2 separate regions of the Homo sapiens genome follow, and region 1 is linked to region 2. The links come from fine-mapping of genetic effects on gene expression. A gene starts in region 2. The other region holds a variant in brackets. All regions are shown on one strand. Distances are from middle to middle.

The links. PIP is the estimated chance that this variant, and not a neighbour inherited with it, causes the effect.
Region 1: its variant is the best candidate, but not a certain one, in a credible set for the expression of UBA3 in whole blood (INTERVAL, PIP 0.89).

Annotation. Positions count from the first base shown.
Region 1 is chr3:68,939,517-68,943,917 of GRCh38, reverse strand. No RefSeq gene overlaps it. Among named protein-coding and RNA genes, the nearest start is that of TAFA4, 9.2 kb to the right of the region's middle. The variant C/T (reference allele first, on the strand shown) is at 2,167.
Region 2 is chr3:69,078,093-69,082,493 of GRCh38, reverse strand. It overlaps UBA3 (ubiquitin like modifier activating enzyme 3), which reads left to right and starts at 2,129. Exons shown (of 18, transcript NM_003968.4): 1 at 2,129-2,160; 2 at 2,341-2,382. The coding sequence starts at 2,141. RefSeq lists an enhancer at 358-417 and silencers at 2,021-2,090, 2,211-2,300, 2,421-2,650.

The DNA.
Region 1 (4,401 bases), 140 kb after region 2:
AAAAGCCTGGCTTCTGGGGCTCAGAAACCCTTTCAAAACTATTATCTCTGGTGTGGGTTTCAGCAGCCTATTTTGAAACTCATAAGCCATGGCTTTGTCTCTTTGTTCTCAGAGTTTTGCTTTGGTATTTTTTTCCCTAGGGCTGTAAGCATACTGTTTAGCTGCTGCAATTTGTTGAGTGCAAGAAGGAAAGAAGGGGCATGGAGTAAAAGGAAGTACAAGGGAGTATTTAAAAAATCATCTCAGTGCATTTATTTATTATTTAAAATGTATGTCAGTGTGTTCTAATAACCTTAAAAAATAAAATGCTGACATAATGAATCACACATTACTTTTTTGTTTTTGTTAAGAATCTTATGAAAATGTTAGAATGTTTTGAATTTGCTAGGGGCAAAATTAACTCAATTTGGAACCTTGTTTATCAAGACTGGGTGGGAGTGTCACTTTGGGGTGTCGCCATATTCAACCTGATACCCACTTTTTTTTTTTTTTTAAAGAGATAAGGTCTCACTCTGTCATCCAGGCTAGACTACAGTTGCCCAATCATAGCTCACGGCAGCCTCAAACTCCTGGGCTAAACTTACCCTCCTGCTTTAGCCTCCTGAGTAGCTGGAACTACAGGTGCCTGCCATGACGCCCGGCTAATTTTTAAATTTCTTGTTAAGACAGGGTCTCATTATTTTTCCCAGGCTGGTCTTCCCAATTACTGGCCTCAAGCGATCCTCTTGCCTTGGCCTCCCAAAATGTTGAGAATACAGGCATGAGCTATGGCGCCCAGCTGATACCCGCTTTTTTATATTCTCCAGGTCCCGTCTCGTTCTCTTCAGCCTGGTCCTTGAGACTTGTATTAATTTGCAAGGTTTGTTTAGAGATTCAAATGGTTAAGGCAGATTGAATTTTTCAGACCAGGCATACTACGAGGGTAATGGAACATGAGCATGGCAGGAAAATGACCAAATCCTAGAACAGAAACTGCTTGAGGTTCCTTCCATCTCATGACACCTAGAAGCATGGTCACTGTGAACCTCTGTAAACTCTACCTCAATCTTGCTTCTGTTGATAGAATACTATAGTAGTCAGCGTTCTTCAGAGAAACAGAACCAATAGGATATATATAGAAATAAATATGAATATAAATTATATATATAAATTATAAGTATAGCTTGTATAAATAAATATAAATTATACAAAAATAAATTTAAATACAAATTATATAAAAGTAAATATAAATATACATTATATATAAATATACATTATTTATAAATATATATTATATAAATATACATTATAAATATATATTATATATACATTATAAATATATATTATATATAAATATACATTATTTATATATATAACAAACCTGAGATTTTTTTAAGGTAATTGGCTCATGCAATTACAGAAGCTGAGACTCCATGATCTGCCATCTGCAAGCTGGAGACTCAGGAAAGCCAGGGGTGTAGCTCAAAACACTGAGAGCTCTATAGCTGATGGTGTAGATTCCAATCCAAATCTAAAAACCTGAGAACCAGGAGTGCTGAAGGCAGGAGAATATCGATGTCCCAGCTCAAACAGTCAGCCAGAGAGTGAATTCAAACTTTTTCTGCCTTTTTGTTCTATTCAGGGACTCAATGAATTGGGTAATGCCCTCTCTCGTTGGGGAGGGCCGTCTGTTTTTTACTTAGTTTACCTATTCAGATATCAATCTCTTTCAGAAATACCTTCACAGACATACCCAGACATTATGTTTAACCAGATATCTGGGCATGCTGTGGCCCAGTTAATTCAACACATACAATTAGTCATTACTAGTATATAATGTGTAGAGCCTTGCACAGAGTGAGTGCCCAATAGATGAGGCTATCACAGTAATTCCCTAACTGTGTACTTTCACTTGACAGCCTCATTCCCCTCTGTGGCTGCAATGAGTACCTCTAAGCATCTAAGCAGATGATTTCCAAATCCACGTCTCCAGCCCAGATCTCTACCACTCAAGATTCTGAGGCAACTTGGAGTAGGGGAAAAGCATTCTTGACTTAGAGACTTTCTAGCTTGAAACAAGTCACACTAAGAAACATCACATATGTTCTCTGAGCCTCAGTTTATTCATTGGTAAAAATGGAGAAAATAAATAACTTCTAATGGAGTTACTACAAAGAGAAAATAAGA[C/T]AATGTGGGTAAAATCACTAAATATGTTAGCCTTTTCTTACCTAGATATTCTACTCAAACACAAAATTTTCAAGCACTGAAGCTCCCAGTAAACCGAGTCAGCTACTTCCTGAATATCTCTTTTAGAGTTGCTGTGGTCTCAGATCTCCAACTCTGTAGACTGGCTTCTTCATAGCTTCAATTGCACATCGTCCATAATTGTCTGTCATGTCTTCTACTTTATTATGACATTTAGTTCAACTGCCCCAACCAAATGACTCAGTCTCTAGGGCCCCCATTTTCAAATTCCAGGAAGAAAAGTCTGTTTGGCTCATGCCACTTTTCCAGCCAGGTCACACAAATCAGAGGAACTGGATAGATGAATTGTACCTGGCTTAGGACCTCAAACATAATTTATTTAGCTGTTGCCACGTGGGTTGGGTAATACGGAACATGGTTAGTTGTTCAGTCAGGGCAGTGGGTAGGGCAGTTTTCCGCAATGGACACTAGTGAGCATTGTCCAACGTTCCTTCTTTTCTAGGAATTTATAACCATGTAATGATAGTGGGGCTGCCATTCACCACCGCCCCCCCTTGCCCAACCTGGGCATGGACATAGACTTGTGAAACAAGCTGGGCTAGATTTTTAAAAAACTGAAGTCAGAGGAGAATTCTTGTTGCCTTTAGGGTCACGTGGCTGGAAGGGAATAGCTTGGGATTATTGAATAACATTTCCTCTGCTTTTTGGATGTAGCCTCTTCTTGATAAGAGAATGAGGCCAACAATAAAAAAAGAAAAAAAAAAGCCAAGAGATGGGGAAATTATACATACACATACATTCCTTCCCTGAGTACTAATATCCAACCACACTTCTGGAACTTCTCAGTTATGTGAGCAGATAGCTGTCCCTTTTTGCCTATGCCAGTTGTGTTGGGTTTCTGTCACCTGCAATCAAGGGTTTTGGCTAGGACGCTTTCTCGGGAGATGCTTGGCAGGCAGGCAAATGTCTAGTACTGCATCCAGCTTGAAATCCATGGGATTTGAGGTCTATGGATAGATTTAGCTTCCCTGATGAGAAAGTCCCTGATTGAGAGTATTTCAAATGTCAGTTGTCCAAGTGAAGCCTCTTAAGTCCTACTTTAACATTCATGACCTTTTACAAAATAATGTTCCAAGGTAGAGGCAAAAAACTCAAGTCCAAAAATAAAAGTCAAATGGCATGTGGTTTTTGTTGCATGTGTTAGAATATGATAGATAGAAAAAAAAAACTGGAATAAAACCCAACTCTTATTTTTCGGTTTTCTCCAAAACTTTGCACTAGAATTCTAGGAGATTAGACAGGACAGGTAATGACCACCAGCATGGTTTCTCTTTCCACCTTTATTTTGTCACAATATCAACTTGCAAGACACAAACTCAGCACGCTCAGAACCCAAGTTCCAAAGATATTTAACTGTCAGCCCATCTTTGCCACCATCCTCACTAGATTGAGTCGTTTCAGGGGAAGCTGAGTTGGTGAACGGGGAAGGAAGAAATTCTCAGTATACATCATCATTCAGTGTGAGGCAGAGTGGCTGCCCCTTAGGGTTGCAGAGCTAGAGAGAGAAGAGAACATTAAGGATGGAATCAGGCTAGGCCCATGGTGGAATATGAAGGCACTGCAAATCCTGTGTTTCTTTAGAATAGCATTCTCATTGGCCATTTCTGCCAATGGAGTCACTCCTATTTTCATAAATCTCAGCCCCCTTCTGATTGTGTTATGCCCCACCTTTCCAATTTTGCCATTTACTTAAATTATTATCCATATATTTTTCTTTAATTGGAATCACCTTTGAATTTAGCCTCATTCCAAATAGCAATATCCATGAAACCACAGGTTTGATATTCTCACTTAACTTTTTCCTGATGTACATTAAAACAATGAAAACTATTAAAAAATTCTTTTGCATTTCAGGTAAAGTCATTTTGCAACCCATCTGTGGAATAAAAACCATATTTTGGAGAATAATGGGTTAATATATTGTTTCTTGTGTTACCACACAGACATGCTACAAATGTGGGAGGGATAACAGTTAGAAACTTTATTTATATCTGGAAATGATTAGCAGATTTGATACGGTCACCTGTTACAGTCTATAAGGTGAAGGTACAGAGAACCAGTAAATTTTGATGGAGCAGATAGGGGTTAGAGAAAAAATAATTTCTTTCTTTCTTTTTTTTTTTTTTTCTTGAGATGGAGTCTCACTCTGTTGCCCAG
Region 2 (4,401 bases):
GGTCTTTCTGGAGCTTTAATTTATTATTATTTTTAGAGACAGGGTCTCACTATGTTGCCCAGGCTGGTTTTAAACTCCTGGGCTCAAACAGTCCTCCCACCTCAGCCTCCCAAGTAGCCGGGACTACAGGTGTGGGAAGCCGAGCCCTGCTTGATGGGGCTTTTATAATGGGACTGGTGTGTCTAGATAGGACCATTCAGACTATCTGTCTGTTTAAAAACCATAGCAGATAGTCTAATTGTTTATGATATGTTCCATTTGAAGTAAAATAAATCTGTTGAAGGTTTTGCTTGCATGTCTCTGTTGCTTTCATTCCTGGCAAGGGCAGATGGCTATTTCTAATCCGTCAATCAATCTAAGCCAGTGAGAGTGCCTGGTGTCGTTTATCAAAATACCACCATGGTGAGTCAGGCTGTTAGTCTCAAAGCAAGCAGATGCAGGGCCAGATACCTTTGCAGACTTCTTCATCGGCTAGCTGTACTCTATCCCTAGGCCTCAGTTTCCTCCCCTGTGAAATGGGTGAGACTGGACTAGGTGGCCTTTAAGGTGACTGCTGCTTTTCACTATCTGAGAGGGTTGCAATGCTCACTACCACTAATCAAAGGGTATCCAGTATTGTTGGGGGTTCAGGCTACAGGAGCCCATTTTGATAAGCACTGAGGTTAAATCCTCAGTGAAACCATCTGTGGAGTTGTCTGGGCAAGAAAAAGTAGTTTCATAGTTGACGCTGAGACATGTGATGCAGAAGGAGGCTGGTATCTCTTGATAGGGACTGTGAACTCTATTCCCACGCTCACTGCCTGGCATTGACTTTCAGCTCAGTGAATGCTATTGAACTGAACCTAATTGGGGGACCATAAAGGACAAGCTTTCCTTAAGGTTCACTGAAAACTAGGACAAGAGGAGGTTAAATATCACAGTGTAGTAACAGCAGCTACATTTACTGAGTACCCATCAGGCTTTATGTACTCCATTTCAGTGGCCCTCAAACTTTACCAGTGGAGAATCACCCCAGGCTTTGCAGAAGGCTGAAGGGTGGGGTGGCGGGGGGGCGGTGGGGAGCGTGGTGGGGGCGGTGAGGGGTGAAAATTTGTGTTAAAAAAAACTTCCCAAGTGATGTTGATCAGGAACTGTATTTTGAGAGCCACTCTGGATTTTACTTAATTATCAGTCTTACAAGGTGAATAGTGTTATGCCCACTTTATAAATGAAGAAATAGAAGTGTCTAAGGGTTTCGTAGCTCACAACTGAGAAGAATTTAAAATCAGTTACTTTTGATTCCAAATATCATTCTTGTCCCACTCCATAGAAGGAGATGTGTGTGTACGTGTATATACATACATTTTTGAACATGATCATTTCCCTCTATCCAGCCATCCAGATTCACAGTGTATATTTGTATTTCTGACTCTAGAAGAAAATAATTGAAACTTTTATCACAATTTATCTTTAGGTGATAGGATTATGGGTGTTCTCAGTTATTCTTTGATTTTTGTGATTGTTTTCCTTTATACTTTTTTCTTTGTATCTAAATATACACATTTATCTCAGGAAAAGTTTTAATCATTTTGTTTCCGCTGAACTTATCTAACAGAATGTGACATGAAAATATTAATGCTGATTTGTTCAAAGAAAATAATAATCTCCCACCCCACCAATGTAAACGGATTTAGATAAATTTATTATTCAAGTGAGTACTTATAAAGGCAAAGACTTTGGAACCATCCTGAAAAGCAGAAAGTGAAAATTTCCTTGATCTTTGCCCCCAGAGGAAAGCTCTGGCATACTGGGAGGGTTCTTCACGAATTTTTCATAGAATATACCAATATTTTGTATAATTACGTATTAACATATAGTTTGTGTAAACGCATAATGTATTGTCTACATTTTCACGCTGCAGAGCAACATTATGCACGGTATAAGATTCACCTAATTAAGCGTAGGTAATTAAGATTATAATTACAGGGCAAGACTTTAAAGCCCATGGGAGCCCAGCCGCAGTCAACCTCGCACCTCCCTGCCGGTTGTGTTTCTGGCCTCGCCCCTCCCCGCTTCGCCAGCCCCGCCCCTCCCCGCTTTGCCAGTCCCGCTCCTCCCCGCCCTGCCGCGCGTGGGCACCTGGGAAGAGGCGGAGAACAATATGGCGGATGGCGAGGAGCCGTAAGTACCGGGGCTCTGCAGACGCGCCGGGCTGGGCTGGGTTGTGAGAGAGCGCGGCGGTGGGCGGTTGCCGCCGCCACCCGGGGTCCCCACACCCCCCGCCCCGTCCCCTCGCCCCCCTCCCCTCGCGGCGCCCAGTGTGTAGCGCGATGCTGACCCTTCTTTTATTCTCTCTTTTAGGGAGAAGAAAAGAAGGAGAATAGAGGAGCTGCTGGCTGAGAAGTTAGTGCTGCCGGGAGGCCGGGGCCCTCTCCGGGGACCCCCGCCTCCCCCCACCCCAGGCCTAGGGGACCAGCCGCAGCGGGCCCGGGGGGCTGGGAGGGGGACACCCGGAGCGCAGGCCGCGCTGCCTCATCCCCTGATCCCCGCCCCGCAGCCCCGGGGGCCTGGCGGGCCGCTCCCGGTATCTGCCCGGTGCGGGCGTCGGGGCCAGGCTGTACTGCCCCAGCTCCTGCAGGGGCCCTCCGGGGTGCTTGACGTAAAGGTCTTGAGGAAGGACCCTTGTGCACTCCTCTTCCTCCATCCCAAATTGTCAGAGCAGTGACCCTGTGAAAAGGCAATCTACCTTAAACACACAGGAAAAGGACACAAGACCGTTTTGTGGCCTTTTGCAAACACTGAGACAGTAGTACTAATTGCAAACTTTTAATGATAACTCTACATGTCAGGTATTGTACTAAGCACTCCAGTCATTTTGGCAGAATAATTGGCTCTTAAAAGATCTGGAAAGAGGTTGTTGACTTCAAACAGCCTATTTATCCCTTTTACTACACACCCTATTTCTTATCAGATGCTTAATTCTATGCTGGTGAGACAGATTTAATCGAAGTGTTTTCTAACCTGGCCAGCGCCACATAATTTACTCCCCTCCCTGCCTGGGCAGGGAAAAAATACTCTTGCATTGGTTATGGTGAGTTTGTAAATTTCCGTGCCGATTCCCAGTAGCAGTGCTTTGATCTTTATGTGTGTCCCTCAGTTGAATTTCAGCTGCAAGAGGACCGGGATGACAAACTTAATTTCACATTCTTTCCTGCCTTTTATTTCCCTCCCACTTTTACATGAAATCACAATTAAACATTGCTTACCATATCCCACGTACTGTACTGAGTCTTCTGTGTGATTATCTATATCCTCATGGCTGAAAGAAGTAGCTATGAACGGCCTGCAGATGAGGTTTATGTCTATTAAGTAATCTGCTCAAGGTCACAGTGCTGTTAATTGTGGAACCCAACACAACTCTGACATCAAAACGTATGGTTTTTATTGCTAGGCAATACTTCTTGGTCCCTTTTGTAAAAATTGGATATTACTAATATATTTGACGGTAGAAACTGTGGAGTTATAGGAAATTAGAAAATTAAAAATAATCACAACCAAACGTGAATCTTAACTAAGTATAAAATAGATGAATTTTGTAGAGGAGTCCCACCTTATTCTGTTGTATGTTCTAAAAGGTTTGTAGATGTCTATCTGTGGCGTAATTGTAATCTGAAACTTTGTGTTTAGTGGCAAGAAAAGCCGTCCCACAGCATTAAGAGATTCTTTAAAAAATTAAGACCTCTGCCAGGTTCGGTGGCTCATGCCTGTAATCCCAGCACTTTGGGAGGCCGAGGTGGACGGATTACTTGAGCTCAGGAGTTTCAGACCAGCCTGTGCAACATGGCGAAACCCGTCTCTACTAAAAATACAAAAATTGGCTGGGTATGGTGGCATGTACCTGTAGGCACAGCTACTTGGGAGGCTGAGGCAGGAGAATCACTTGAGCCCAGGAGGGCAAGGCTGCAGTGAGCTGCAGTCACACCACTGCACTCCAGCCTGGGCAACACAGTGAGACTCTGTCACAAAAAAAGAAAAAGAAAAAGAAAAAATAACCTTATTTCTGAGAAAAGTGTGTGAAAATTCCTCTCATCAAAGTGATTTTTAGATTACACCTTTGGAAAGGACACATAAATATTAAATTTGCATCAGACATATAAGCATCAGAATTCTGAAAGTGTGACTTTTTTTCTCTGTTGTATCTCATATTTCCTAATGCAAGTGTGATGAAACAACAGATTGAGGAAGCTTGCAGTGTTTTTTTTGTAAATACCAAATGTAGAGAAGTCAATTTCTCACATAATAGACCAATATCCTAAGTTGAACCTTGGATTGCTTTAGGAAACCAAAAACATGTAGACTGATTTATTTCATCCATTGGGTGAAATAAAAATAGAAACGTGCAGTTCTTAACTTTAAATGAAT